4 linked regions of the Homo sapiens genome follow. The protein of the gene in region 1 interacts with the protein of each later gene in a biochemical or structural test. Each region holds a gene or a part of one and is shown in the gene's direction. Other genes may lie near its edges.

Region 1 (7,930 bases):
TCTTTTCCCCAAGTGCCTAGACTGGGACAAACTATCAAGCCTCCTGTAAGAGATTAAGGAGGAGCTGCTGGTAAATTCCTTTCCTTTTTTTTTTTCTTGAGGCAGGGTCTGGCTATGTCACAGGCTGGAGTGCAGTGGCGCAATCTTGGCATACTGCAGCCTCGACCTCCTGGGCTCCAGTGATCTTCCCACCCCAGCTTCCAGAGTATCTGGGATCACAGATGCACGCCACCATGCCCAGCTAATTTTAAAATTTTTTCTAGAGACAGGGTCTCTCTGTGTTGCTCAGGCTGGTCTAAAACGCCTACCTTAAACGATTCTCCCACCTAGGCAGCCTCCCAAAGAGCTAGGATTAGAGGAATGAGCCACCATGCTTCGTCCAAATTCCTCTACTCTAAATTATCTTTTTAATTTGCTAACATTTGTGAGTTGTAGAGAATTGATGACACGAGAGTTGGGATTATATTATGCACCTCAAATTCTTCTGCCATAGAGCTGTTCCCTTCTGAATGATCACTTCCTCCTGAATGGCTCCACTTAACTGGTTGGGTTTCTTAAAGTGTGGGCCTCAGATCACTTACATCAGCATTAATGGAGGCACTTGTTAAAAATATAGGTTTTGGGCATGGTGGATCAAACTTGTAATCCCAACACTTTGGGAGGCTGAAGTAGGAATAGCTTGGGCCCAGGAATTTGAGACCAGCTTGGGCAACACAGGGAAACCTGGTCTCTAAAAAAAAATTTTTTTTAATATTCTGGGCTTAGTGACTCGTGCCTATATTCCCAGCTTTTCTAGAGGCTGAGGTGGGAGGATCTGGTTCGCTTGAGCCCAGGAGATGGAGGCTGCAGTGAGCCATGATTGCCCTACTGCATTCTAGCCTGGGCGACAGAGAGAGCGAGCCTGTGTCCAAAAAGTAAGTAAGTAAATAAATACATAAAAATAAATACGGGTTTCTGTCACCTCGCTTCAGAATCAGACAGCTAGAGGTGGGGCCCTGGAATTGGTGTTGTTAATGCATTCTCCAGGAATTTCTCCTGCATAGGGAAGTTGGAAACCACTGGCTTCCTTCTCTCTGAGCATCTCCTGAGACTAGCTCCTGAAGTGGATAGAAAGTTTTTCAAGTAGCAGATTAAGTTTTATCCCTTAGGCTGCTAATAAAAAACAATTGACTGTGATTGCGTAATTTTACCTGTCGTACACCTTTCAGAAGGCAGAGGCTTTGGTTCACCCCTCTACCTCCAGGGCCTAAAACAGTGCCTGGAGGAACTCAATTAAACATTTGTTGAGTGAATACGTGAATTACATTGCAGCGAGGCCAATCTTTTAAAAGTTACTTGTCAAATTAATCTATCAGTTAGTGGCATATTAAAGCCCAGCATATTACAAAAAAATTTTTTTTAGTAGTCACTGATTTTATAAATTAGGAGCCACAAGCACTATACCCCAGTGACTTCTGTAAGTTTGGTTAGTTTAGAAAGGAGAGAGCCTTTCCCAGGCGTAGTGTGCTCAAGGTGATTAGCCAGAAAGAAGATTCAGAACAAAGCATTTGCTTAGAGAGTCAAAATGTAAATTTAAGTCACAGTGTAGTGGTAAATCATATATCAAACTTATATTTGGTATATTGTCTTATATCAAAATATCATTTTATAAACCATAAGTCCAACATACTGCTATAAAAATTGGTTTCTAGCAAATAGAGAAAATTGTTATGTTTTCCAATTTCACTTTTCATACTAATAAAATTTGACCTTTACACCTTCTTTTCAAGAGTTCACCACAGGGCACCATAGATATTATGTAGTTAAGAGCTCAAACTTTGGAGAATATTGTGTTTGACCACACATAGTCAGGGAGTTTGATCTAACCTCTCAATGCCTCATTTCTCAGCTGAACATGGAAATAGTAATAATAAAGTTCACATACTTCTAAGTGCTTACCTAAGTTTTTGAGACACATCCACTTAATAAATGGTAGTTACAGTGATGATAAAGAATTGGGGTGTATAAAAATACCTAAAACTCAAAAGCTAACCCATTTAATTATTGTACTACTGGACTTTTATGATAGTAAGTAGAAATCTGTTGCTTAAAAAAGAAGTTTCTTTGGTGGTGTGCGTCTATAGTCCCAGCTACTTCGGAGGCTGAGGTGGGAGAATCACTTGAACCCAGGAGATCAAGGCTGCAGTGAGCTATGATTGTGCCACTGCACTCTAGCCTGGGTGACAGAGCAAGGCCCTGTCTCAAAAAAAAAAGAAAAAAAAAAGTTTATTGCTAACTCCTTGGTACTATGTATAATTTTTTTAATTGAATGACTAGACTAAACATTGAAAGTATTTAATAAGCTATCAAATATGTATTAATATAAGTTTTGAAAATAAATACTAAATCTCCTGATCTCTTTTAGGTTAAAATATAGTTTATGATGAGCAACTAATATTCTTTGTATTTAAAAAGATAATTGTTTTATGGTAGAAAAATTGAAATACAGAAAAGTATAAAGTAGAAAACTATGAAATACCCGTAAGTCTACTACCTGCATACATATTTCTTCAAATCCTTTTGTGTGTGTGCATATGGCTATTCATATACAATTTCTGGTAACAAAAATGGGATCTTGCTATACATATGGTTGTAACCTGCTTTTTTTTTGCTTAACATCTTGTCATGAGTGTCTTTTCCTATATATATATTGCATTATAACAATTTTAGTAACCAAATAATATTCCGTTTTATGGATCTATGGTAGTTTTTTTTTTAATTTTTATTTTTTCAGACGGAGTCTCAGTCTGTTACCCAGGCTGGTGTATAGTGGCTCAATCTTGGCTCACTGCAACCTACGCTTCCCAGGTTCAAATGAATCTCTTGCCTTAGCCTCCTGATTAACTGGGATTACACATGCCTGCCACCATGCCTGGCTAATGTTTGTATTTTTAGTGGAGATGGGGTTTCGTCATGTTGGCCAGGCTGGTCTCATGCTCCTAACCTCAGGTGATCCACCTGCCTCAGCCTCCCAAAGTGCTGGGATCACAGGCGTGAGCCACCACACCCAGTCATGGATCTCTGGTGGTTTAGCCAATTTATTTTTATTAGACATTAGTTTGTTTATTTTTCCTCCACGGTTACTTATAACCCTGCAGTGACTGTCCTTCTACATATGTCTCTGAATGTACTTGTGAGATTATTTTCATTAGGATAAATTTCTACAAATGGAATTTGCAGGATCAAAGCCTATGCTAAATTTTAGGATTTTTTAAATCCGTATTTCCAATTTGTCATTTAGAAAGATTGTATCATTTTATACTCTTACCATGGTATATCAGACTTCCAGTCTCCCAGCCCCTTGTACCTTCCCCCATTTTATGGAATGACTTAACCAGTGACAAACCTAGTGAATTTTTGCTTTTAGGAAGAAGAATGGACTGTTAGTATAATGTGTTTAGTAGTGTGATATGGAAACTCAGAAATCTTGTGCATGGGTAATAGTGATAGCTAATGTCGATTAAGTTCTTTTGCAGCATCTTATATACATTAACTCACTTCACAAAAAACTCTCATCTTACAGATGCCTTGGAAACTAGGGTACCAGCAATTAGAGAGCCAGCAAGTGTCTGAGCAGATTTTTACTGTAGAGTCCAAAACTCTTAGCCTGTTTCCTAGACATGTTTTATAGGCATTTGGGTACTTTTTATGTTCTCGATTGCTGTTGTGGAGTAACTAAGAGGTTCTCTGACATGTACTAATATATAAACTGGGTGGGGCACAAATTTGAATCCCTTTCACTGAAGAGTTGGTCACATAAGTTAGCTCAGAAATTAGCTTTGGGACCGGTGCTGTGGGTCACTCCTGTAATCCCAATACTTGAGAGGCCAAGGTGGGAGCATTACTTGAGCCCAGGAGTTCCAGACTGGCCAGGGCAACATAGCAAGACCCTACAAAAAATTTTTTAAAAAGTAGCCCAGTGAGGTGATGCCCACCTGTAGTCCTAGCTACTAGGGAGGCTGAGGTGGGAGGACTGTTTGTACCCAGAAGTTGGAGGCTGCAGATGCCACAGCACTCCAGACTGGGCAACATAGTGAGATCTTGTCAAAAAAGAAAGGGGAGGGCAGGGCAAGAGAGAGAGAAAAGAAAGGAGAGAAAGAGAAAGAGAAGGAAGGAGAAAGAAAGAGGAGAGAGAGAAAAATTAGCCTCATCAACTGTCCAGCATTCATCCTTAAAGTAGTCTTGTTATCCTTTACTCTGTAGTGGTTTTCCTAAAGTACCCCTGCATGAAAAACAGGATTAGAGTGCTAGAGAAGACTAGTGAAATTTGAAAAGGCAGTTCACTTGTGATGTGGACTTGTCTTAGAAACGCAAGACTGTACAGAAGTGTGATGAGGGAGACAGCTGGGTGTGTGTGTCCAGGTAGTTCCATGTTGGCGAGTTTGGAGATAGAAAGTGGCCTAAGGAAGTTTACTTCCTGAATGTGAATGTTGGCCACTTTGGAGATAGAAAGTGGCCTAAGGAAGTTTGCTTCCTGAATGTGAAGGCCTCAGTGTAGAGAGATATCATCCACTGGGAGATCACTGAAAAGTAAACCAAAACATTTTTATTAATACATGGGATGGTAGAATGTCACTCCAGTTTTGTTCCTAAAGTTCGTAGCTCTCTAAGAAAGTGAATTTTAAGCAAGTTAATCTATTTTAATGCATCACTGCTCTTTCGGTGTTTTTCTAGTAGAATTAATGATAGGTAGCTTGCTTTATTAGCTTACTGCCCAGAGAGAACATTGGTGAAATTGTTTTGGCTTCAGCTCTCTGGACTGAGTTTGGCTGCCTAGCTCAGTTTTCAGTTGGTCACCAAAACCTGTCATTGTTTTTGTGTGGTATGGGGTCTGCTGGAGTCATGTGGTAGTGCGTTTGGCCCTTCATTGAGTGGTGGAGCCAGGAGTTGAGCTGAGGGCTGTGGCAGAATTTTGAATTCAAGTGAATTCGAATGTGAAAATAACAATGTCTGGCCGGGCGTGGTGGCTCACACCTGTAATCCCAGCACTTTGAGAGGCCGAGGTGTGCGGATCATGAGGTCAGGAGTTTGAGACCAGCCTGGCCAACATGGTGAAACCCCATCTCTACTAAAAAATACAAAAATTAGGCGGGCGTGGTGGCGCACAAGTGTAATCCCAGCTACTTGGGAGGCTGAAGCAGGAGAATTGCTTCAATTCCCTGCTTGAACCCAGGAGGTGGAGATTTCAGTGAGCTGACATCGCACCATTACACTCCAGCCTTGGCGACAGAGCGAGACTCTGTCTCAGAAAAAAAAAAAAAAAAGAAAGAAAGAAAATAACAAGGTCATAGCAACACAGCAAGTGGTCAGAATTTTACCCTTGGTGGTTAAAATTAAACATCCTCTTTTTAATACAGGAGGACAATGCTCTTGCTCCTCTGTTGCACTGGTGAGCATTTGATGTGTTCCTCCTTGCATTATGTCTGCAAATCGTTCTGGTGTCTGGTGGCATGCATTTGCAAGACATGGATACAGTTCATGGACGTGGACGAGGTCAGCTGGCTTTTAGTGTCAGGCTTTAACCAACCTAGTTAAGAAGGACGCTGACTCTTACCATAAAAGCACTGCAACAAGATTGGAATTGGAGCTCCAACGAATTGGAGCCATTCGTTTTGTGTGTGTGTGTCTGTTTGCCTGTGTGTGTGTACAGGGTTAATTACTTCTCTGCAAGGCAAATTTCCTGACCGGTTTTATTGTTCTAACACAGACAAAATGTTGTGTAAACACATATATCATTCCAGTGTGTTATCTATAATAGGAGTGTTCATTGTGGATCCAGTGTTTCACAAAAATCAATTCATTTCCGCTCTGAACTTAAGATAGTAGATTTTAAAACCAAGTTATCTTTCAATTTCTGAAGTTATCTGAAACTCAGCTGCCCCAGTCTTGCAGAATTGGAGAATTGCATTTTGGCCACTGATGAATGAAAGCTATATAGCTAGTAATGAGAGAAACCTTGAAAAATTGACAAGAAAATGAGTGCCATTCTTGGTATATAGCAGATTTCAATGAATAGTAGTTCCCTTTGCCTTTATTTTTCCTCTTTCCTGCACTTAATATAAAGAGCTAATATTAAAGTCATTAAATGAGAATAGATCTGTATTATAGGTAGCACTGCTTATTTTTAGACCCCTTCAGATACAGTTATTACAATTGTTGTTTTAATATTCTTTAAATGATTACAGGAGGAAGAAACTTGGTAGCGGGGTTACCAGGATGTTAGCTCCATGAGGGCAGGGAGTGTATCGCTGTTGTCCAGGGGGCTAGCCCCAGGCCCTAGAGCAGCGCCTGCTGCCTGGCAGACACGCAAGGGTTATTTGTTGGTTTATTAAATCAAGGAGTGTTTGAGGTCCTTCAAGCCTGGAGGCCCGAGGGCTCTGAGCTGGTACAGAGCAAGTGCTGGGGGCAAGAGAGACAGGTGGGGAGTGAAGGAGAGAGGCCCACTTGGGACTTGACTCTGAATGTCTGGGAAGTAGGAAGTTAATGTAAGTTTTAAGCAGGGGAGTCCCATGATGTGCTTTTGTTTAAAAATCTCCTTCTGAGTATCATGTGGGAGTGGATTGGAGGATGGATAGAGAGGAACATTCCATTGACTCGGCTTCCAGCTGTCTATGGATGTTGACGTTTCTACCTAGCCTTCTGCTTTATCTTTGTGATGAGGATAATGTGGTGTACTTTGTGAGGTCTCAGGAATGGTTTGAGATGAATGGTAATTTGTGTAAACTTTCCGGAGTTTCTCTGAGGAAAAGAGAACCCCATAAAATTATTACTATTGATCAAATGAAATAGCAGTGTAAGACAAAGATCAAGAATTATTTAGCTTTATAAACAAATTAATTGAGGTTATGAATATAGGTTTCTATAGGAGAGATTTTGTTTCCTTTTTTTAGTGAAAGAAATCTTAAATGTATGGGAATGAATCCTTAAAATAGCAGGCTTTTGCATTGTCTATAGAAGCTGTTCTCTTTGAGGAAGATCTGTTTTGTAAAATGCTGCTGTTGTCTGTCCAATCTGGAGTTTTAATTAGTATCAAAGGGAGGGAAATCCTGCAGTAATCGTAACCTTACTTTAATTCTTAGTTCAATTAGTTTTAAACCACAGTCATTATCTGTTATCTTTAGTTGTTTTGATCTTGGTAGATGAAGTGATTAATATTACAGTTGTGATTTGGTAATTTAAAAAATAACATGTTTTTTCCTACTACAAAAGGAATACATGTTTATTGAAGAAAACTTTTGGAAACATATATAAGGAAAGAAGACTAAAAGCCTACCAAGATCTTACCATCCAGTGATAATGACTGTTAATACCCTGTGAAGGTCAACATGCTCAAATTACCCAGCAGGTGCCTGGTGTGAAGCTACTTAGCCCGGGAGAGTTGAAGGCCTGTTAGGGACCACGAGCACTGAAGGTGGCAGGACGGTCCAGGGCCAGTCAACCCAGACCTTTGTGGTTCTGGGAGGATGCGTCCTGGTGTTACTACACCTTATAGTTATTTAGGAGAATGTGGGTTTAATATGAAATCTTCTGATTTTTATGTGGGCCACACTTTTTATTGTTAACACACTGGGGTTCAAAGCATACCTGAGGGCTGGATTCAGTCTTCGTTGCCTTGCCAGTTTGTAGCCTCAGGTACGTACAGTTTTGTAGCCTGTGTTTTTCACTTAATGTGTTGTATTTGCAGCCTTTTTTGCTACATCGTCATATATGTAATCAGTCACTTATTGCTGGACCTATAGATTCTTTGTCTTTTTGCTTTTTAATAAAGATAGGTAAAATTCTTGGACCAAAAGTTGTTTGTAAAGCCTTTGCAGCATACCGCTCTCAGATGCATTCCCCCTATCATGTAAAAGGTACTTGTTTCCTGTTCTCTTACCAGGACTGGGTAAAA
Region 2 (8,057 bases), on another chromosome or scaffold:
CACCACATGAGGAGCAGGCAGGGAGTCAATCCCAGGTGCACTTAGGAGAGAAGAAAGGCACATCCACCTGGTAAGCCGCTCTGAAATGAGTAGCGTGCAGGGTGATGTTGAGCTCTATTCTGCAGTTCGATCAACATGCTTCTACCTCTCGGCCCTCACATAGCAGCCTGCCTGGCTGCCATCTGCCAAGCTTTTGCTTTCCTTTCTGTTTTGCATAAGGCTTTTGCTTTTAATATGCTGCTACTGAGTACAGAAAAACAAGAGCGTACCAGACTTCAGGGATCTGCCTGTTTCTTTTCTGCCTTTTAATAGAGCTTAGCTCTTTTGCCACTTGTTATTGTCAAGTACAACATGAGTTCAGAGAAAGAATACTGCACCTGACCGGGGATGGATGCCACGCCTTGAAGAAATTGGCAGGAAACAGAAGAGGTTTATAGGATCTTCTCTTCTGCCACTCCCATCTTGGAAACAAGTGGAAGTACATTTGCAAAATTATATTGAAAAAAATGAGAAAATGCATTTTTCTTTATAGTCAACCCTTCTGACATGGACCTAGTTTCAAATGAAGTTATGAGGAAATGGCCCTTATGACTAAATGTTGATTCATGTGCTGTGAGCTGTGAACCCAGGATGAGAAATGGGAGGAAATCAAACTAAGGAATGGAAAGGGGGAAGTGCTCTGGGTGCCTTGCCTAAGAGACTGAACCCTCAAATCTTGGAAATAAACCATATTTTGTAAACCAGATAATTTAGACTTAGGTTATTTTGTGTGTCTCTTATTTGGTATCATTTATCAAGTTATGTTTTAAAAGTCTATAGCTTTGGGCTATAACATATATGCTTAGGCCAGAGTTTAATGGGGATCAACAGCATCCCTGGAAGCCTATATCTCTTCAGCAGGTATCGAGAGAGATCCTAAGAGAAAGATGATTCTGGTAGCGGTGACACCCAAAAATCAAAGTCCAAATTGAGTAGGGGCTCCTTTCCAACAGGCAATCTCTTGCTACAGTAAATCTTGGATGTTATTTAAATTTTATTTTATTTTTATTTCACAAAGTACACTAAGGCCAGGTGTGGTGGCTCATGCCTGTAATCCCAGCACTTTGGGAGACCGAGGTGGGTGGATCACCTGAGGTCAGGAGTTCAAGACCAGCCTAGCCAACATGGTGAAATCCCGTCTCTACTGAAAATACAAAACTTAGCCAGGTGTGGTGGCGCATGCCTGTAGTTCCAGTTACTCTGGAGGCTGACGCAGGAGAATCACTTGAACCTGGGAGGCGGAGGTTGCAGTGAGTCAAGATTGCACCACTGCACTCCAGCCTGGGTGACAGAGCAAGACTCTGTCTCAAAAAAAAAAAAAAAAAAAAGTACTCTATCCTTTAAGAAGTACACTCAAGCCCACAAGAATTCTTTTGAATATATTTAAAGTAACATGAGAAAATTAAATAAAAAACTTAAATAATGATATTTTCTACAAACTCTAGGATCAAGCACCAATTAAAGAGGATGAGTAGGCTGGGCGCGGTGGCTTATGCCTGTAACCCCAGCACTTTGGGAGGCCCACACAGGCGGATCACTTGAGGTCAGGAGTTCGAGACCAGCCTGGCCAACGTGGTGAAACCCCGTGTCTACTAAAAATACACAAATTAGTCAGGCGTGGTGGTGGGCATGTGTAGTCCCAGCTGCTTGAGAGGCTGAGGCATGAGAATCGCTTGAACCTGGGAGGTGGAGGTTGCAGTGAGCTGAGATCGCACCACTGCACTCCAGTCTGGGCAACCAAGCGAGACTCTGTCTCAAAAAAAAAAAAAAAAAAGAGAATGTGTAAAAGATAATGGAATTATTACATATTCAAGGTCTCATCTACCTTGACATTTCTATGATAGATGTCATCATTCATTCATTCACTGAACATTTACTGACTCTTAAGTGACAGGTATTATAGGCAGTGACTTGTACACTGTTGTTATCTATGTTGGTTTTTAATAATTTCAAAATGAAATACATTTTGATAAGCAAAGTCTAAGAGAGTGTGGCACAAACACTTTAACGCATATAAGCTCGGTGGCTCATGCCTGTAACCCCACCCAGCACTACCCACTCAGGAGCTTATCTATGCTCTGCCAGAATGTATGTTCATCCCTGGAAACCTCACTTGAGAGTGCAGAAGGAGGCTGATACCATCCACGCTCTTCCTATACTACACAGTCTTGTCTGAAATTTAGTCACCTTAATCACTGTTTACTATAAAGTTCCACAACTTAAACATCAGGCAATTACAGGATATGGTGTTTCGGCCCTAATGAACCTTGCAAATACCTGAAATACTCAGAATACTTATTTTCATTCCAGATCTACTCCTAAATTTAAGGGGAGCAGAAGAATGCGAATGAAGGCCAGTAACTATTGTGAATACTATACTAAATTGTCTGTAGGTAATAGCCACACATTGGAACACTAACAAAAGGAAAATGTATGCTTGATACTACTGAGAAACAATACTTTGTCATGCAGGAATCTATAGCATTCAAGCTGAGATGAAGGATTTGACAAGTTAATTTGTCTTCTCTCTTACCTAAGCATTTCTGCTGCTCAAATTCTGACTCCAAAGCAGTCTCTGAAATGGGCAGCCATGCTATGTACAAATTTTCACTGCTTTTGGAGTTCACCGTTTGTTTTGAGGACAGAAGACAAAAGATAGGAAGAAGAGTTTTCCTGGGGCCTGAATAGTGTTCTTCACTGGGAGAGGGAATTTATGGTTATGAGCCAGTGTTCAGTATCAGATCACAAGCGGCAGGGGCACCTATTTTTTTTTAAATTAATGTGTGTGTGTGATATGTAAGTTCCTTTAAAGCATGGAGTCCAGGATAGAAGTCTCTCTTGCCCAGGTCTAAGGGTGCGGGGGGAAGGGGGGGGGCGCGGCGGTGGGAGGGAGTACTTTAGTGATACTAGGAATTTAATGCCAAATGTATTTGCTGTGTGACCTAGATGGCTGAATTTTTTAAAAAGTTCTTCAGCATCGAGAAAAATCCAGTTAGACCGATAGCTTAGAGAGCTGTAGCTTATTTCTAAATTTGACTTTCCCTAAAACTAAGTGTAAATGTCAGTGATATGAGGACTTTTTAAAGAAACAAAATAAAGAAACAAGATACACAAAAATAGAGCAACTATGGCCAATCTTGTTTCATCCCTTTTCATCTATGACCTTACTCATACCCCTATCCATAATAAATGACTTTCAGCAAATCCTAGATGTTCTGCATCCTATATCTTTCTAACAGATATTCTTAAAAAGTATGACCACAATACCATTATCCAATTATTCCTTGTTCAACAAGCACTTACAATTTCATCCATGTGAAAGGCACCTCATGATTTTTACTTGAGGATGAAGATAATTTCTCATGAATTCTCATTGTTTTAAGTCACCTGAAGAGGTGTGATATGCTACAATAAATCTATTTGTAGGGCTTGGCTTCAAGAACTGAAGATTCTGGACCTAGCTGATCTGGTGACAGTGAACTTGAGACCTCTAATAGCGTTTAACTATTTTTTTTTAACTTTTGGAAAGCAAGGTGTAGGAAGGGGATTTAGTTTTTCCATTAGGTCGTGGCATGTTAAGACTTGTTTCTTTTTCCAAAATGTTCAAGTTGCTGAAGAGAACTATGGACTATGGGTCAGGAAGTCCGTCGGTTTCGGGTCACATTCCGCTCCCGCAGGCCTGCGGGCCGCCCCAGCTGGTTTGTTCCCGGCGTGTTAGAGGTCAGAGGCCGAGGCCGCACTCAGTGCCTGGGTCTCGCGCAGCTCCAGGGCTCTCAGGCGACACTGGGCGTTTCCTTTCCGGCTTCGGAAAGTTTTGTTTTGGTTCAAGGAAAGGCGCCCTGTTGACCAAAGGCTTCTCAGTCTCCTCCGGGTGGCCAGCGGCCAAGTTTCCTCCAGCCCAGCGAGTCCAGACTATAGTCCGTTCGAGATCCTCGAAGGCCGGGGAAGCGAGTCTTGTGAGGAGAGAAAGCGAGTGGGCAGCCAGCCTGCCGACTCCACTGCCGCTGGCTGGCCCTTCTCTTCCCTCTGTCCCTGGGCCAGTGCCCGTCGCACCACAAACAGTGCGAGCAGTCTCCCCGGTGACTCCTCAAGGACCCAGTTCTCCACCATTCCTAAGAGAACACTCAACCCAGCCGCGCCCGGGATGCAGAGAGATCTACCAACACCCGAGAATGGGGACAGGGCGCATGCGCACACCGTGGCCGTGGCGTCTAAGTGCTCGCCCAGCTGCGGCAGCCGCTAGGTGGCGCATGCGCCCTGGAAGGTGCGGGCCGGTCTCTGGGAAGAAGGCGGCGGCGGCGAAAGGCGGGGGTGCTGTGGGGGCCGGGCCGTGTTTACACAGCGGCGGGCGGGCGCGGACGCGGAACCCGGCGCGGCGGCGGCACGATGGTCATGGCGTATTTCGTCGAGAATTTTTGGGTAAGCTTAGGATGTTGGAAGTCGTGTGTTTCGAAGTCCAAGGCTTTTGGCGCCTGAGCTTGGCCTGCGTGCGCTTCGGGCGGCGGCGGCGGCCCCTCCGGCAGGGCGAGCGTCCTCCTGCCGCGTCCCGCCTGGGTGAGGTCCGGCGGGCGACCGGTCGCCAGCCTATAGGGACTCCCGGGCTCGCAGCCCTATGGGGACGGGGGCTGTCACCGCGGCCCGGGGGCCCGCAGCGGGGCCGCCGGCCACCGGGGCTGGGACAAAGCGCCGGATGGGGCGGGAGACGGGACCCAGCCCCACCGGAGGCTCCCGGTGCCGCGCTCCGCGCGGGGCGTGCGCGGCAGCTCGGACGCGAAGGACGGGCCCGCGGCACAGCCGCCTCCCGCTGCGCGCTGGCTGGGAGCGCCGGGCGGTGGGGTTTTGCCTCCTGCCCTCACCGCGGGCCCCCCATCTGAGCGATCCCTTTTACCTCTGACGGTTTCCACACCAAATCCAGTGCGGGGTTGGGCTGGACTAGCACTTCCTCTCAGCCTCGCAGCTCGGCTCGTGGGTTTGCGCCCAGGACTTTGCCTCTGGGCCTGTTCACAAAGCGTTTAAAAGTTGGATTTAATGTAACTGGACTCCTTGGGCTTAAATGCATGGAGACCTCCCCCTACTCTGTGCTCCTTCCCCTTCCTCATTCTTTCCACCCCTTGTCTTAGCTCAGTATTAGATTCTTCTTTGAGAATTTCTCCGGCTCCCGGTGGAGTATTTTTCTGCAGTTATTGTTTTTTTTTTTGTAATGGGAAGTACAGTTCAGCCATGTACAGGAAAGGAACGTGTTTACTCAGGTATCTTTCGTGAATCCCATTTTATGCCCTGACAGTTGCAAGTACTGCAGGTCCATTTTCGTTGAGATTTAGACATATTTAAAGGGGTAATCTTTTAGCTAGTAAGGAATGTATGTTAAATTCTTAATTCTAAGTGCCTCAAGCATGGTCTTGGTTAGTAATCAGATCAGTTCATAGTTATTTATTTGTCTTGAATGTACCTTGTTTTCCACAAAGAACGTATATACTAGACCTTAGGTGTTTTGTTTTTTAAACAGCTTTATTGAGTTCACATTTCCGTACCAATACACTCATTTAAAGTGTAGTACAATTCAGAGGTTTTTTCATATGTTCATAGAGTTGTGTAAACATCACCATATCAGTTTTACAACAATTTCGTTATCCCAGAAAGAATCCCTAGACCCATTAGCAGTCACTCCCCATTTTCCCCCTGCCCCAGGCCTAGGCAACTAATGTATTTTCTGCCTCTCTGCATTTGTCTAGTCTGGACATATCCTATAAATGGGGCCATGGTGACCAGTTTCTTTCACTTAGCATAATGTTCTCAAAGTTTATCCATGATGTAGCATGTATCACTACTAATTCCTTTTTATGGTCAAATAATATTCCATTCCACATTTTATTAATATTTATCCAATCAGTGATGGACATCTGGTTGTTCCCACTTTTGGGTTATGAATAATGCTGCATGAACATTTTTGTACAAGTTTTTGTGTGAACATATGTTTTCATTTCTTTTGGGAATGGGATTCCTGGGTCAAATCGTAGCTCTATGTTTAACATTTTGAGGAACTGCCATACTATTCTGAAGTGGTTGTAGCATTTTACAATCCCACCAGCAATATCTGAGGGTTCCTCTCCACATGCTCACGAACACTTATTTGTCCTTTTTATTATAATATAGTGAGTGAACGTGAAGTAGTATTAATATTTTATTGTGGTTCGATTTGCGTTTCTTTGATGCTTAACATCACAGTTAATGTGCTTATTGCCTATTTTTATATTTTCTTTGGAGAAATGTCTATTTAGATTAATTGCCCATTTAAAAATTGGGTTGTCTTTTTTTATAATTGAGTTGTAAGAGTTTTTTTTTTTTTAATATTCTGGATACACACCTTATCTGATACATAATGTGCAAACATTTTCTCCCATTCTGTGGCCTGCCTTTTCATTTTCTTGATGCTGCTCTTTGAAGTAACTCATAAGTTTTTATTTCTCGTGAAGTCTTGGTGAAGTCCATCTTATCTATTTTTTTCTATTACTTGTGCTTTTATTGCATCTAACCCAAAAATTATTTGCCTAACCCAAAAATTACGCCTTTTTTCTTGTTTTCTTGTAAGGGTTTTATAGTTTTACTTCTTCTGTTTAGTTCTATGATCCATTTGAAGTTAATTTTTGTGTATGGTGCAAGGGAAAGGTATAACTTCATTCTTTTGCAATTGTGTATCCAGTTGTCCCAGTACCATTTGTTGAAAAGGTTCATCTTTCCCCGTTGAATTGTGGTACCATTGTCAAATATCAATCGACCAGAAATGTATGGATTCATTTCTGTATTTTCAATTCTATTCCATTGTCTTCCCTTACGACAGCCAGTAACACACAGTTTGGATTGCTGTTGTTTGGATTACAAATTTGTTTTGTATAGCAAATTTGGAATCAGGAAGTATGAGTCCTCTAGCTTTTTCCTTCTTTTTCAGGATTATTTTGACTGCCCTGGGTTCCTTGCATTTCCAGATGAATTTTAGGATTAGCCTGTCAATTTTAGGCATTAGGTTTTACAATGGCAATTTATAAAATGTTTTAAAGAGCATTTAAAAATTGATGCTCTTGTAAATGTTATGCATATTTTTGATGCATGAATGTTTTTTAAGTTGCTAACTTAATTCCAAATTGCATCTTCACATTAAAAGTTATGTTTCGTTTTCTGTTAATTGAGCTTTGAGCATAGCTTTGTTTGATGTTTTTGGCTAATATGAATAATACTTCTCTGAATATCTTTCTACACATTTTTATGTGCTTCTTGGGTATTCTTGTTACAAGAGGGATGGGAATAAACTTCAATATTTGAATTCTGGAGAGACCTCCAAATCTAATTTATGTTTTAGTTTTTGCCTTCACTTTCACTATTGAAAACAAATAGTTAATAGACTGCATTTTATTTTATTTCCTGGCTTGGAATTGGGGCTGTGAGGAGGCTCAGTGAGCTAGGAAGGTCTAGGAATTAACTAAATAATTAACTTCCGAGAATTTATAGTTGTCATTTTAGGCTGGGCATGGTGGTTCACTCCTGTAATCCCAGCACTTTGGGAGGCTGAGGCAGGGGAATGGATTGAGCCCAAGAATTGGAGACCAGCCTGGGCAACACAGTAGACCTTGTCTCTACAAAAAATTTTAAAAAATTAGCCAAGTGTGGTGGCATATGCCTGTAGTCCCAGCTACTTGGAAGGCTAAGGTAGGAGGATTGCTTGAGCCCAGGAGTTCAAGGTTGCAGTAGGTTATGATTGGTCACTGTACTCCAGCCTGGGCAACAGAGTGAGACCCTGTCTCAAAAACAGAAAACTAAAAATTCACATATTTCAGGATCATTTATAAAATAATCCCTTAAAATAGATATTAATTTAACTCTTCCCTCTAGCATTTAAAGTGGAACTATTAAAAGGAAATAAAATTGTCAAAATTCAAAACATCGTGCTCTATATGATAAATATATATGTTTTTCATCAATTAAAAGATAAAAACTTGTCAAAGTGAGGTAGTGAGAACCTTTGA
Region 3 (7,930 bases), on another chromosome or scaffold:
ACCTGGTGATGCTCATGAACATTCCAAGAGAGAAGGTCCTACAGACCAGAGCTACTCAACGTGTGCTCTGTGAACCAGCAGCTTCAGCATCACCTGAAGGCTGGCTGGAAATGCAGAATCAGCTGGCCACGATGGCTCACGCCTGTAATACCAGCACTTTGGGAGGCCAAGGCAGGTGGATCTCTTGAGGTGAGGAGTTCGAGACCAGCCTGGCCAACATGGTGAAACCCTATCTCTACTAAAAATACAAAAAATTAGCTGGGCGTGGTGGCATGCACCTGTAATCCCAGCTGCTTGGGAGGCTGAGGCAGCAGAATTACTTGAACCAGGAGGCAGAGGTTGCAGTGAGCTGAGATGGCACCACTGCACTCCAGCCAAGGTGACAGAGTGAAACTCTGTCTCAAAAAAAAAAAAGAAAGAAAGAAATGCAGAATCAGTGACCCCATTTCAGACCAACTGAATTAGAATCCCTGAGGGTAGGGCCCAGCAATCCATTTTAACAAGGTTTCTGCATATTCTGACTCTGGGGGAAGTTTCAGAAGCTCTGTCCTGGACCACACCTTGTAAAGTGCTGATTTGGGAACACTGAATGCTACATGGGAGTGTCAGAACAGTTCATCCATGTCAGTTAACATGAATTGAACCCTTACTAGGGGTCAGACCCTTTGCTAATAAGCACTGGTGATTTGAGATAATTAATTAGATACTGTTAGGCTCTTAATAGACTGGGAGTTTGTCTTACAATCAGAGCCTCGGGGAATAGTTTTGAGTGGCTTTTCTTCCTAATTTCTTCTGCTTCCTAGTTTCCTCTTTCTACCTGCTCTGCAACACACAAGATGGCAGTTTATTGTGCTAATATGAGGGATGTATTGCAGGCTGCCTTGATCATAAATGCCACTTCACTACTAACGTCCTTTCAGCTACTGAAATTACTATTAATAAACATCCTTATGCCTCTTCAGCTGCTGTCTTTTAGAATGCTAACATGCATGAGTTTGGGGTTTATAGGAACAATTTATTAAACACTAGCAGTAAACATCCCAACAGAAGATCTGGAGGTACGCTCAGCGCCCACTCTCCAGCCGTTCTTATTAGGAGAGGGGGAATTGCTTTTTCAGCTTTGAAATGCTGTGTGTTTGAGATCCACCAGATTCATCAGCCCTCCTCCCAAATCACAGACGTATCTCCATGTTTTAGAGCAGGACAAAGGTGTGGGAGTTCCTGGGGGAACCGTGAAAGTGATGAAACCAAGGGTATCTGCCACATGGCTTCTCCGCCATCGCACCAGCTGCCCATCAGCCAGGCCTGGATAGGCTGCTGTCAGCTTGGAGCCAGGGCGCCCTACAGCTGTTCTTCACATGCTGAGAATAACAACTTTGAGAGGAGATTGCCAAGGAAACACAGGAAACTTGAGTATGTGTGAGAGAGAGGGAGAGCGAGAGAGAGAGAGAGAAGAGAGAGAGCATGCACAGAAACATTCATCAGCAAATAGACCTGAAGGAGTGGGACAGAGCAATAGCACTACAAGTCTGAAAGCACATGGACCCCTGCCTTCTAATAAACTGGCCTGTGAAAAGGAAAGGTCAATGGCTTGCTTAGGCCGAAGATACACATTTCCCCCCCAGGAACCCAGCAGCAAAATATAAAGATGGAGCGTGGGGCCAGAAGGCACTCTTGTTTGTCTCCTCGTGGTACTCCTGTGAGAGGTGCTGCTTGGAGACTGGAGGCTCAGGCACTCTGCTGGTTTCCCTGGTTTCAAGCTTCCATGGGTGCTCAGCACCACAGCAACATGTCTTGTGCCTAGCCGTTAGTAGAGGAAAGCTGATTAACAAATACCGGGTTTGTTCCACTCTTAGCCAAGGGTGTAGGGCTGTCCTGAATTAGTGAGGCTTTCTGAATATTAAGCTCCACATCCTTTTTTACAAAAAATGTTGGCCAGAACTTTTCTGTAATTTATTCCCCTCAACAACCCCATGAGATTGGCATTGTTTGTCCTGTTGAGAAAACTAAAGCTCAGAGATGGTGATGAACTTACCCAGACTCACCCAGCTTCTGAGCGCCAGAGCCAGCGGTCCAGCTGGGTCTTTCTGACATCAATGCCTTTATCCACCCACTCCACTGAACTATGGTCCATAGTCTACTCAACTTCCCCACGGGTCCACTGCTTTATTCTGGAGGGTAGATCCCCGGTCACTTGGGAATACTAAAATTTCATTTTTGTGCATCTTAAGATTCTGGAGTGACTTGGTGTAAATTCCTTCCAGTGTCTGTTTTCTAGATCCTAATTTGTAAAATGGAGACATGGAAATAAAGTCTCATGTATTTAAATAAAACACAGTGTTCACATCTCTACATCATCTCACGAGCACATGTTCTAGTGGCCAGAACACGCATTCGAAAATTAGCAGGCTCATCGTAAGATGCTCTGTCAGTTATAAAATGACTGCCCATAAAGCTAACCTCACATAAACTTACTCCATTATTTGTTTAATGCCAGTGGTAGAATAAGGCAACCCTGAAGTTTTGTTATTTCTTTTTTTACTCAGATTCCATATTTGTTGCTTTGCCCGGCAATCACTGGGTAGAGAACGGTGAAACCTGTTATCTCCAAAGAAGTTTCACTTTAGGATTCCTTCTAAGAACCCTAAAGAGTATGATTTCTCCTTTTTCACAAGAGCAATAAATTTGGAAAGTGATATTAATATGTACTAAAATTCCATCCTTGTTGAGAAAGCAATAGAATCGTGGACCTGGAGGGTGAGATGGCAGAGCCTCCTCCCCCAGGATCAGATCTAGGACCTGCCTCTGGGAACTTTTGTTCCCTTGCCTCCCAATGAGTATGTTCCTGATTTTTTTTTTCATACAGAATTTTCATTTTTATTTTTCCGAAAAGTGATTCTCATTCTCATGCAAATAATAATAATAATAAACATGGTAGTGCCCCAAGGCCCCAAATCTAATTTCCTCTCCCAGCTTCGGTTTTCAATAGAAAGACAAACAAAAATATGTTTTTTGGTTAGGAAATCATGCTCATATGCAATGTTTCTGTTTCATTTTAAGTTTCTTCAGACATTTACTAGTTAGTGTAACACAGGCTGCTATAACAAAACAACCCTCACATTTTCCATAGCATAATAGAAATATATTGTTTGCTCACGTAAGAGTTCAGGTGTTACTGGCCAGGAGTCATTTTTCTCCATGCAGGGATATGGAGGGCCCAAGTTCCTTCTGTCTCATGGTCTCATGGCTTAACCATCCTTTAAGACTGTATTTCTGGCAGAAGGAGAAACAGAGGGAGGAGAATACCTGCTTCTGAACTGCCTTAGACTGACAGGGACACACTTTGTTCTACTACCACTCATGGACTGTCTCTAGCCACAGAGCACCACTTCCTTGCAATGGGAATTAGAAATGTAATTCCTGGCTGCACAGCCATTTCCCAGAGATCATGCTCTACCATGCAACAGTGAGGTTAAAGTGCACAGTTGACCATCTCCGCTACAAGACAAGAGCCCATGCCTTCTTCAAATGTGCTACTCACAGAGAATTTTTCATTCTATCAGATACCTACCCCATCGGGCCCTTTGCCCCCTTCCCTTCGATGGCCTGGGGACATGGCTTCCTCAGAAAGGCCTGTTGCAAACCCATGGGCACCCATGATACCAGACATGTCCCCTAGTGTAATTATCATCATCCTGAATCATCTAATTCCCTCTTTTGCTTGCATCTCCCCAATTAGACTGAATTCTGTAAAGGCAGGGAATTTGCCTATCTTGTCCATCACTGTATCCCTAGTGCCTAACACTGCCTGGCATATTACAGGTGCTCAATAAATATTTGAGAAGGAAGGAGGAAGGAGGGCTCTCTCCGGAATAGACCCAGTCCTTGTACCTGTCATTTGTACCATGTGGGATTTCAAGAGAGTAGCCAAGAAATGGACTGGTCACCTTTCAGGACCAAGGACCCACCCTCTTTGGAGTGATAGCAGCTCACCCTCACACAAGCCCTTTTGGCAACCTCTGATGATGACTGAAATAGATGAAAGATTTTCTGCCTTTGGCTTCCACATGCTTCTAAACACAATGGAACACTATTCAACAACAAAAATTGAATGAACTATTAATACATGCTGCAACATAGATAAATCTCAAAATAATTATGCTAAGTGAAAGAAGGCAGACAAAAAGTAGTACACACTATGTGATTTTTATTTATATAAAATTATAGGAAATGCAAACTAATGTATAGTGACAGAAAGTAGATCAGGCTGGGTGCGGTGGCTCACGCCTGTAATCCCAGCACTTTGGGAGGCCAAGGCAGGCGGATCACAAGGTCAGGAGATCGAGACCATCCTGGCCAACACAGTGAAACCCCGTCTCTACTAAAAATACAAAAAATTAGCCAGGTGTGGTGGTAGGCACCTGTAGTCCCAGCTACTCGGGAGGCTGAGGCAGGAGAATGGCGTGAACCCGGGAGGCAGAGCTTGCAGTGAGCTGAGATCACGCCACTGCACTCCAGCCTGGGCGACAGAGCGAGACTCTGTCTCAAAAAAATAAAAAAAAGAAAGTAGATCAGCAGTTTTCTGGGCATAGACATGTGGGATAGGGCAGGGGCCAGTGGGTGGGTAGGAAATTTGGAGGAGTAATGGCTATGTTCATTGTTTTGATTGCAGTCATGGTTTCCTGGGTGTATACATATGTCAAAACTTCTCAAGTTGTACACTTCAAATATGTGGGGTGGACTGTATATCTGTTATACCTTAATAGAGCTATTTAAATAAATAAATAAATAAATAAATAAATAAATAAATAAATAAATGTGATGATAAAAGTACACTAACCCCAAACCACATCCCTCCAACCTCATCATTCCCAACCCTTGGGTAGTTTGTCTCTTTAAAAATATTTCATCGGTAGATAGGTGTCTATCTCCATGGCAGAATTGGCAAGTATGTATTTGTGGCATCCTTCGGAGAAACAGCACAATTCTGTTGACCCCTGTCTGAGTATGGCTTTCAGATCAGAAAACTGAGTCATGTGGACTGAGTATGGGCCATTTAGATTTTCTGGTCTTTGCACACACCTACATGAACATATATAAGCTCTCATATTTTCATATCTACTTCTTCCCAGGTCCAGAGCCAAACCCGTCACTGACCCCCCAGCCCAGGCGCCCAGCCACTCCCCACCGCTACCATGGCCGAAGACGCAGACATGCGCAATGAGCTGGAGGAGATGCAGCGAAGGGCTGACCAGTTGGCTGATGAGGTAAGGAGTGGAGACCTAGGAAGGGAGGCAAAAGATGAAGGCCTGAGTGGTTTGTCTTATTCAGGTTCAGGTAGGGAAAGCCTTTCTTTCAATGTCTCAATTTCTTTTAGAAAAAGTAATATGACTTTGATTTTCTGTACACCTAAGGCTTCTGTGGACCAGAATAAGTTGATTATAGAAGCTGCATACAAATTACTGTCTTGGCCCTAACTCTCAATTTCCAGAAACCTTGAGAAGTCAAGGTCCTCTAAGAAAAGAAAGCAATGTCTTTGGGTGCCTTAATTCAGTGCTATGCTGGAGAAGGCTCAGTTCCGAGAACAGATTGTTAACATTTTCAGGAACTTTGCAAGCTGGTTGCTAAATGCAGCCATTATTAAAACTGAATTACATAAACTGACAATTAGATAGATTCTATTAAAATCAAAAGTAATAAACACTCAAACTTCATCACTTCCTAATTATTTTGCTACATTTTACTATTATCCATGATCTTGAGATTCATCCATTTTATCTGTAGGGTGGAAATAAGGTATAATAATGTGTTACCATGTGTCTTTCCAACTTCATGATCAGTAATATGAAGTTGTAGCTTAAAATCAGGCAGAGCTGGGTACAGCGGCTCTCACCTGTGATCTCGGCTACTTGGGAGGCTGAGGCAGGAGGATCGCATAGGCCAAGAGTTCATGACCAGCCTGAGCAACATAGAGAGACTCCCATCTCTAAAAATATTTAAAAATTTAAAAATCAGACAGAGTAAGAGTATTTATCACCCAAGAATCTGCAAATACTGCAGATCAGGACTTGACTTATTGTTTTGCTGATTGTCTAGACTTTAAAAAGTAGAGAAAATATTAATAATGCAGATTAAAGTTAAAAGTATGTATGTCTGCAGCCATTATACTATGAATAACACAAAAAGAGGAAATCTTCCAGTATTTGAAAATTATGATTCTCTAAGGCAAAGAAATCCTTTTTGTCATTCACAAATGAGTACAATTCCAACACATGCCTTCATTGTTTAATTTTCTTCTTACTCATTAATATACATGAAAATATCCAACCAACATTCATGTCAGAACTACTCTGGTTCATCACATGGTTAGCTGTAGACACAAAAGTTCAGCAAAAATCAGTAAAAGTTTTCTGTGAGAATCAATTGGCTATGCGGAATTTACAATAAAGAGAGTATTGTATATTTTATTATTATTTATAAATTTTGTGCTATTCATCCTTTATATCAGTAAAATAATAAACTTGAATACATGTATGTATTTGTGTATTTTTCCCAGAGAGCCGGTAGTTAAACCTTTACCAGCAGACTGCTGCTTGCAGCCATTCTATTTCAAAAAGCAGCTGGCTGACAGCTCTTCCAGGGAAGTTAACATCCTTCAGGTTCCTGCAGAATCTTGTTCAAAATAAGTTTGTCAGTTAAAAGCAAAGCTTTGAGAAATCACACTGGTTGTTGGATTCTAGTCGTTTCAAAAGAACTGAGAAAAAAGTGACAACGCAGTGCCCGGGGGACCATTGCAGAGCTCAGCCTTTCCGTCTCGTTTTTTCTTATCTAAGGATGAAGATAATTATTATAGCTCTCTCCTATAGGCTGGTCATTTCAAACATGCTTGATTTTTTTCACCCTAAGGCAACAACTTAATTTGTATTGATAAGAACTTCCAATTGTGTTTCTAGGAGCTTTGTAAGAAACTTGATGTTATATTCATCTCGATTCATGAAAAATTATGTTTGTGTTTAAAATTTAATGTTCCTGGCCCAGGGAGGCCAAATTAGTCCTCTGAGTAATTGAGATAATTTTTCATGCATTCTGAGCATGCAAAATTATCTTCTCCAGATTACTTTGTCTTTGATATCAAGATCAGCTTCATATGGTTTTTATTTTCTGAAGATAAGCTGTAATGTAATTGCTTTAGGGAATCTGATCATGTAAAAAGCCTGATAGGAAAGAGTTTGAAAATGTAATGACATTTTTTGTTTCACTTGCCAACTGAAAAGAATATGTGACAGAGACCCTTTGTGTTTCTCAAGTAAATAAAGTATTTCTGATTTTCCAAGATCTCTGGATCCTGCACTCATAAAGTTTATGTTTGTTTGTTTTTTAAATCTTAGTCGCTGGAAAGCACCCGTCGTATGCTGCAACTGGTTGAAGAGGTAAGAAGTGACAGTATTTTAAGATAAAGGAACAAATCCCTTATGCTGATACATCCTTTCCTAGTTGCTATGATGTTTCCTTGGGCCATGATCCCCTAGATTCCAGTGTGGATGTAGCCTATCAGAAAGGCACAGAATGAGGGAGATGCTGTATTTAAGTTGCCAGATAGCCATGAAGACACCTTCACCCTCCTTCCCAGCCCAAGCCACCTCTGTAGTCTGGTCTGGGAAGCAGAGAATAATAGAATTTCCAAGTCTGTGCTCTCAAGAAATCACAGACGATTGTATCACTTTAAGCAAATTAGAGCAATTCTTAATATACAAAGGAATTATCTACATAAAACTTTATTTGTAATTATTTTTGTGCCTATAAATTACATCTAATCTTGAGATTCTGTTCTAACTTTAGCCACATATATGACTTTTAAAAATATGTACGCATATAGGTGTATCATTTTTAGAAATTGTTCTATTTAAAGTCAAGCACTAAAATTTATGAA
Region 4 (7,930 bases), on another chromosome or scaffold:
GAAAAGGACCTCTAAACGAGACACGCAAATTCTAAGGACTTTGCTATAAAAACCTTTGTCCTAAATGAAGAGACCCAAGCTTAGCTAACACGCCAGGACCACCTGAATAGCTCTCCAGAACCTTCTGCAATTTTAATTTGGTGAGCCTAAGGTGGGACCGAGGACCCTGCCCTTGCCTGGATGGATGTGGCTAGTCCAGCTCCAGTGCACAGAGCTACCTCTGGGCTGAACTTGTTTCAAGCTCCTGGCCCATGTGTATTCCAACTTCTAGTTATCCTAGCTCCATAAAACATGGCATTTTTACTAATGTCAATTATTATGGATTCCTGAACGTTATTACCTTTCTTGTATGTTCCAATACTAGACTTAGCTCACTTAGCTACCCTCTGATTTTTTTCAGTGCTCTTAGTGATGGCAGCAGTAGGTGGCTACTTGATGTGGCGGAATTGGCAACACAAGAACATGAAAAGCATGAACTTTGACAATCCTGTGTACTTGAAAACCACTGAAGAGGACCTCTCCATAGACATTGGTAGACACAGTGCTTCTGTTGGACACACGTACCCAGCAGTAAGTCAGCTTTGTGTCTTTATACACCATGGCTTGAAGTGAGACTTTTCAGAAAGGAGACCTGGGTGAGAGAGAGAGAGCCATTAGGATGATGGAGTTACCAAACACTTCATCTGCTACCTGGCTATTAGACAGACAGTATAGCCTGTTAGAACATAAGTCACTCAGTTGATCAGCATCTAACCCTCACCAACTGACAAGTGGGTCAACTTAAAGTCACCACTATATTAAGATATTTTTGGTTATAGAAATGACATGTAAATACTAGCATGAACCAAGTAGCTCATTACTGAACTATTAAATCCATTGCCTACTGGATATTTGAAAGTAAATTAGCATATCATATATAGGGGAGTTGGCTTAAAGTCAGTGTATTGAGTAAGATTCACTTAGCCAAAATTATTATATGCTTTGCTTTAAAAAGGTATCCCACCGCCCTTAGTATAGCTAGCTTTTCTTCCAGCAATAGTCACTCACTTGTTCTTCAGATGAAACCCAAGTGGAGTATTTGGCCTTCACGTAGGAAACAGGCTGAACAAAACAAGTATTGATCACTCCCCTCTCAAACTCCGGTGAAACATGGAACAGTGGTCAATTCTTGACACACACATGGCTTTTCACATTTTTCCCCAAGACTTATGATCATTAAGTAGAAAAGACAGAATTAGTCACACTATCTTATCTCACTACCAAGCAGGTATAGTTGAATTCAAGTTAAATGCATGAATGATACAACTCAGTATTCTTTTGTATCTGACTGACTTTTCTTCTAAGCACTCTGAGTGTTTGAATGACCAACTCAAAAGCAAGGTCCATTTTAAAGACTAGAGTTGCCATCAGTGAGTGATCACCAAGCTCATTCTATACTTCTTCTTTTCCACAGATATCAGTTGTAAGCACAGATGATGATCTAGCTTGACTTCTGTGACAAATGTTGACCTTTGAGGTCTAAACAAATAATACCCCCGTCGGAATGGTAACCGAGCCAGCAGCTGAAGTCTCTTTTTCTTCCTCTCGGCTGGAAGAACATCAAGATACCTTTGCGTGGATCAAGCTTGTGTACTTGACCGTTTTTATATTACTTTTGTAAATATTCTTGTCCACATTCTACTTCAGCTTTGGATGTGGTTACCGAGTATCTGTAACCCTTGAATTTCTAGACAGTATTGCCACCTCTGGCCAAATATGCACTTTCCCTAGAAAGCCATATTCCAGCAGTGAAACTTGTGCTATAGTGTATACCACCTGTACATACATTGTATAGGCCATCTGTAAATATCCCAGAGAACAATCACTATTCTTAAGCACTTTGAAAATATTTCTATGTAAATTATTGTAAACTTTTTCAATGGTTGGGACAATGGCAATAGGACAAAACGGGTTACTAAGATGAAATTGCCAAAAAAATTTATAAACTAATTTTGTACGTATGAATGATATCTTTGACCTCAATGGAGGTTTGCAAAGACTGAGTGTTCAAACTACTGTACATTTTTTTTCAAGTGCTAAAAAATTAAACCAAGCAGCTTAACCATGGTTTGTGCCTGTTCCTCTAGGATGAACTCCTATCCTGAGTAGTACCAAGTGTTCTAACTAAATGTGTGAGCTGTAGTTCTTGATGTTGTATAACTAAGCCTGTAATTGGGCTGGTTTCTCTTACACCCTAGCACAGTTAAAAAATGAAGTACTGTTTAACATTTGCTCCCGAAATATTTCTTACTGTGTAAAAGAAGCTAGCTTAGTCTGTACCTAGAATTCCTCTTGGTTAGAGGAGTGAGTTTCTTTTTTTTCCATTAACTTGTTTCCTGATCGAGAAACACGTGCTAAGATTTCTATGAATTCTGCTTCTTTATAGTTAAGTCTCTGTTTTCCATGTTCTGTCATTTATATAGGTCAAGGACAAGTGCCTTCTAAGGCATGGATAAGGGCTTTCTTCTTATGAAAGTCTAGACTGTCTTACTGTGAAGATGGCCAGGGAGGATAGCAAGCAATGGCATTCTTGAACAGTCTAAGGCAGGTTTCTCAGTGTGGTCCTGAGAACAGAAGCATCTGCATCACCTGGGAATGTATTAGAAATGCAAGTTCCCAGCCCCATCCCAGACCTACTGAATCAGAAACTCTGGGGGCGAGGGCTGAAACCTGCTTTCATAAGCCCTTCAGGCGATACTGATGTAAACTAAAGCTTAAAAACCACCGTTTTACTGTGACTTCATGAAGAATATAATTGCAATATCACCTAAATTTTTATCCTGGCTGGGATGGGGCAGATTCTTACTATGGACAATTTCTGGAACTTACAGTATGAAGAGCAGATGAGGAGTTTGAGACAAAGAAAAAATTGTACAGGGAGTTTAGTGAATTTTCCATCAGGTTGGCCATTACTTTCTTTCTCTAAAGTCTCAGGATGTCTGGAAGCAAGGAAAGACAAAAGACTTGAAGCACCGGGTGCATGCTGTGTGTCACAAGTGAGGTGGAGAGTTGGCTGTGGAAGGTACAGCAATTCCTCTGGAATTAAATGACCGACCAACACAGTACCAAGAGGATGAAGAGAAGATGTTTTGCGTTGCTACGTGAATCAGTGGATGACTCATATTTCACTTGCATATGAAATATAAGGCAGTTAACATCTTGTTTGTGGCTTAAGCAAGGACATTAATCCTACTAGATGAAGGGGAAGTTGGTTCTGTTGTCTTAAGGGATGCCCCCTTGTGATTTTGGTCAACTGAATGAAAAAGAAAAGATAGCCTTGGACTTTTTTTTCATGGGAGGTTTGGAGGTCAAGCATGTAGAAGGAAAAGGCTGTAGTCATGAATATAGAACTGTCTGCTCTCCACCTTTTCCTCACTCTACATTTAGTCATCACACTGAACAGGATGTGGCCTGCTGACAGTGAGTAGCTGAAGTGCCTGTTTGGTAAGTAGGTTAGCATTCATCATGAACTCTGAAAGCCATTTCAGAGTTTGGCTGCTGCTCTGACCCTGCTGTGGTACAAAAAACATGGATTTTTTTTTTTTTAACTGGAGTAATACCAAATTCCCTTTAGAAGCTTGAAGTTTGATACTATTGCTTTCCCCATTATAAGGATTATACAGTATTAATTAATTATAAGGCCCAAAGTTTGTTTTGGCAAATAAAGTATTATTCTCTATCATCATCTTTTGAATTCCTGTCCCTAGTATGTTCTTTCATGTTCTGGGTAAAATTTCCAACCCTCAAAGAGTCTAAAACGTCTCATTTTTTTTTACCACGTCCTCCCCAGTAAGAAGCCAAGGTACAACTCATTGTACCTACGAGGTACAAACTCATTTGTAGAAACAAAGTAACTAGATATTCCTATTGAAATAAGAATAGATATATTGGTGGGCCAGGCATGGTGGCTCACGCCTATAATCCCAGCACTTTGGAAGGCCAAGGCAGGAGGATCACTTGAGGCCAGGAGTTCGAGACCAGCCTGAGCAACATGGTGAGACCCTGTCTCTACAAAAAAAAAATTTATAAAAATAAAAGAAAAAAATAGTTATATGACTAAACTACTAGTCAATACAGCTTGCAATAATAGTGCATGAATGATAACAGGCCTCGGCTTTATCACCCAAAAAATAACTTGAATTCTATGTGAAATGTGTTAGGATAAGTTTGCTCTGTCTCTAGAGTTCAATGTAGAAGATAATTAAGAGGTAAAATATGAAGCTTATCATACACTAAAGGAGAATATTTGGAGTTAGATGAGCCTGTCACACAAAGTGAAAGTGGACCCTCCAGAAATTTTAGGAATTGCCACAAAGATTGATGATAGATGAATAAACAGATTTGTGGCCTCTGGTAAAGAAATCCAGCCAAGTTCCTCTGTCCAAATTTTTAAGTGCCCTTTGCAAGCTAATCTATTTGGCAAAAAAATAGTCCCAGTTGTTCAACTAGCTCCCTTAAAACATTCTAGTAGGTGTTTTAAAGCCTAGGTATCGCTGCCTCTTTAGTTCTTGATGAATACAAGGCAAAAAAAAAAAAAAAAAAAAAAAAAAAATTGAGGCTTTCACTTTGGCATTTGCTTCTGTTCCTTGTATCTGTGGAAGTCAAGTAGCCCTTCTCAAAAATGAGAAGCCAAGCTTTAAATAGCAAACTACAGGGTATTAAAAGACTAACTCTTCAGTTAAGAACACTGTAGAAATGGTAGACCAACTTAAAGTCTACCTTTTAACAATCTTTACCCCAAACCTAAAGATTCTAGGGGTCACTTATCTCTATTACGTAATCTAACTGGAATAATTTCCTAGAATTCTTACTAGTGAAATCTTACCCAAGTAAAACAATTTATTATTTTGAATCCAAATGAAAGCTATACTGTTTGCTTTCAATGGTGGCAAAAACTTGCAAAAAGCAGATATACTTTTGCTAATTTAAGTTGAAGTACTATGAATACAACCTGCTAATCTTGATCCCCAAATCTGAGCCCTTCAGTTTCATAATTGTTTTATCCTGAACGTAGTTGTGACATAGACATTTCTCAAAAGGGTCTGATACATCAAACTCCTAACAAGTAGGAGCAGCAACTAGCTAAAGAGTAGAAAGAAGCTTCCCTTATTGTGGGTGATGAGGCGGTGCCTAAAAACCACATATATATAATCCCCTGGGTATTACATATTCTGCAAGCCCTGTTAGTGGGGAGATGGTAGTGGCAATAGCAGCGATAGTTGCGTCAGTGCTAACTGCTGCTGCTGCCCGTTCTGTTGGCGGCTGCTGGCCAAGTGTGCACACTTAGCCCTGGTTGAGGTGCATTGTCTGCTGTCGTCTGTTAAGCATCTAACCGGAGTGGGAGGGCACATCAAGCGATTTCACTCTCTTAAAGAAAAGGTTTTTAGGTATTTTTGGTATTATATAGTCTCTAAGGCCAGAAGGGGCTTATAATGACTTCTCTTCTAGAATTGTAATACTAAAAAACTACTCGAGTAAATATCCTAACAAGTATGATTTTTCTTGGGAAAACTAAAAATTGTACATCCATGCTTCAGCCATATCATGGGCCTAAACTATGAGAGTTCAGAAATATATAAAAGTACAAAAATCTTCAAAGGTACTTATTTCCAAATATGGAGGGAATGAATCTGAAGAGGGAACAATGGCGTTTTTCGAACTTATTTCTCTCTAATCCAGCCTGGAGGATTTTTAGCCGAAACAGTTGCATGTGAAGGATTATCAGCCATCTTTGCATATCCCTTTCACATCTACCTTCACACAGGAAAGCTGAATGCATTTTACCAGTGAGGCTCTAGATATGAAACTTAGGGATCCATAGATAAATAAGCTACTAACAAACTGATAACAGTGGTGTTCCATCTCTCTATCATGTCTCCTGAGTCCGTTTCACGTTTTTGAGCCTGGCTAATGAGAAAAAGAACAAAGTAGGACCATGACCCAGTGTTCTCCTGTAAATCTCACTGTAAAAATCTCAATGCAAAAACACTGAGACAGGAGTGAGACCAGCTGCGGGTGGGGAGTTTGTGCTCCGCAGGTTACCTCATGGCATATCAAAAATGGCTTTTTTCTTCACTGCGCTCAAGGAAAAAGTCAGATGGGTGACAAGGTGGTTCTGTTTAGAAGCAGCAGGCAATGTAGTTAACAGCATAGACTTCCGTGTCTTGTGTGTGGTACCTTGGGCAAGTTACTAACTCCCTCTGTAAAGTAGAGACGATGGGGACTGTCTCACTGTGACAAGGTAAGATTTAAGTGAGATGCACACAAAAAGCTCAGCACAGTGTCTGGCATCTAATATGTGCAGGGCAGATGTCACTACTGAATATCACATCAATGCTAGGGCTGTATTTACTGTCACACACAGGCACCGGTAAGTGACTTTACCGGTGAAAGTCACAGGTACCTTTATCTATGATGAATGTAATGTGTTAGATGGTGACCGAAGTGTTCTCCACTACACCTGTCTGAAGAGATCTAAGTCTGATATTTAAGGAGTGATAGCATCTTGCATACTTAAGAAGGCTTAAAAGACTGCATGGTTTAAACCCTAGAAACATAAATGGAATGTTTCTGCCTCAGTTCTTTTGACTACCTCCTAGGACATGGAAACAAATATTTGGGAGCCTGCATAGTCTTTAGATGGCTGCCAAAGCACTTAAAATCTCCTTTAAATTCTTACCATATGCTTACTTTTGTACTAAGTAAGTGCTCCCAAGTCTTTTACTTGCTCTTCACAGCAACCCTAATAGGTATCTCCATTTTACATAGGTAAAAACTGAGGCTACAAACAATCTATGGTTCCAAATCCTATGTGCTTACTGCCGTCTTCTCTTAGAAGGGGATGCAGTACTGTACAAAGATTGAGCTGGATGTCGCATTGCATGTTTGCTGAGTCCTCCTCATTGCTGATGTTAGGATCCTTCAACAGTTTCTCAGATGCCAGCTATGGCTGGCATCCAGTATGGTGGTGTAATGGAAGTGTACTACTAGCACTACTACATCAGGTCAGCACAGATTAACTCAGTTACGTGTTATACCTTCAAGACGCTAGACATTCCAGAATTATTTTCCTTGGCCATCCAAGTGAAGTAGAAGTAGATTGTTGGATTGCAAAGAAAATGATAAAGATTCCCTAAAGGAATTTATAAGCAGGCAACTTCATTCCTATGTATAAGATATTGGGAGAAAACAAACTGTACCACAACAAATCTTAAGTTTCAAGGCTCTCCTATAGGGAGAAACATGGCCAAAAAGACAGGAAGAACTGTGGCTTGTAACTCAATGATGCTATAACTCCAGCACTGGATCTTAAGTATTCTGGAATATACCAGATTGGTAGAACTACCAGACTTGGGTATTTCTCAGTTAACACACATGCAAGGAGGAAGAGAGTTTTTTTGAACAAAATGACTGGCTTTGACAAAACTATCTTGCTCTTTTTAAATGTCACTTGATACTAGAATGCGATTTAAAAGCATGTAATGCCTCAGGAGTCCGGCATATACAACCAAATTATCATGCTCAGGATCTTCAGAATTCTAAAGGCACATGTTAGAATGCAGAGTCCTGATGACCTGTCAATAAACTTTTTTTTACTAATGAACTGTACATTTAAATAAAAGTTTATTTTTGGGATAATTGTGAGCCTTTCCTTTCTCTAGAGACCTTTTATAAAAGCTTTTACTCAAATCTTTTTCCTTTTCTCAACTGAATCACTGAAGATGACTCAGTCACCCCTTTCTAGGAACAAGTAGGGCCACCCAGGTCTGGACACTTCAGGCTGAAAAACTGAGAGATGGTCCCTTTCTTGCCATATTTAGTACAGTTAGTGCCTCACCATGGACAGCCAGTATATTATCCTCTCAAATTTCCCCTCTCTACCCTTCCCATG

Evidence for each region.
Region 2: the proteins of ITSN1 (region 1) and FCHO2 form a complex in vitro, tested with the Homo sapiens proteins (one study listed by BioGRID).
Region 3: the proteins of ITSN1 (region 1) and SNAP25 form a complex in vitro, tested with the Homo sapiens proteins (one study listed by BioGRID).
Region 4: the proteins of ITSN1 (region 1) and VLDLR form a complex in vitro, tested with the Homo sapiens proteins (one study listed by BioGRID).

Annotation. Positions count from the first base shown.
Region 1 is NC_000021.9:33,644,744-33,652,673, forward strand, and holds part of ITSN1 (intersectin-1), read left to right. Parts: intron 1-7,930. UniProt on the Homo sapiens protein: Adapter protein that provides a link between the endocytic membrane traffic and the actin assembly machinery. Acts as a guanine nucleotide exchange factor (GEF) for CDC42, and thereby stimulates actin nucleation mediated by WASL and the ARP2/3 complex.
Region 2 is NC_000005.10:72,951,672-72,959,728, forward strand, and holds the start of FCHO2 (F-BAR domain only protein 2), read left to right. Parts: upstream 1-4,369; 5' UTR 4,370-4,425; coding exon 4,426-4,458; intron 4,459-8,057. UniProt on the Homo sapiens protein: Functions in an early step of clathrin-mediated endocytosis. Has both a membrane binding/bending activity and the ability to recruit proteins essential to the formation of functional clathrin-coated pits.
Region 3 is NC_000020.11:10,270,297-10,278,226, forward strand, and holds part of SNAP25 (synaptosomal-associated protein 25), read left to right. Parts: intron 1-5,132; 5' UTR 5,133-5,195; coding exon 5,196-5,267; intron 5,268-7,388; coding exon 7,389-7,430; intron 7,431-7,930.
Region 4 is NC_000009.12:2,652,380-2,660,309, forward strand, and holds the end of VLDLR (very low-density lipoprotein receptor isoform a precursor), read left to right. Parts: exon of another isoform or gene 1-400; coding exon 401-570; exon of another isoform or gene 571-631; intron 632-1,453; coding exon 1,454-1,489; 3' UTR 1,490-7,677; downstream 7,678-7,930. UniProt on the Homo sapiens protein: Multifunctional cell surface receptor that binds VLDL and transports it into cells by endocytosis and therefore plays an important role in energy metabolism.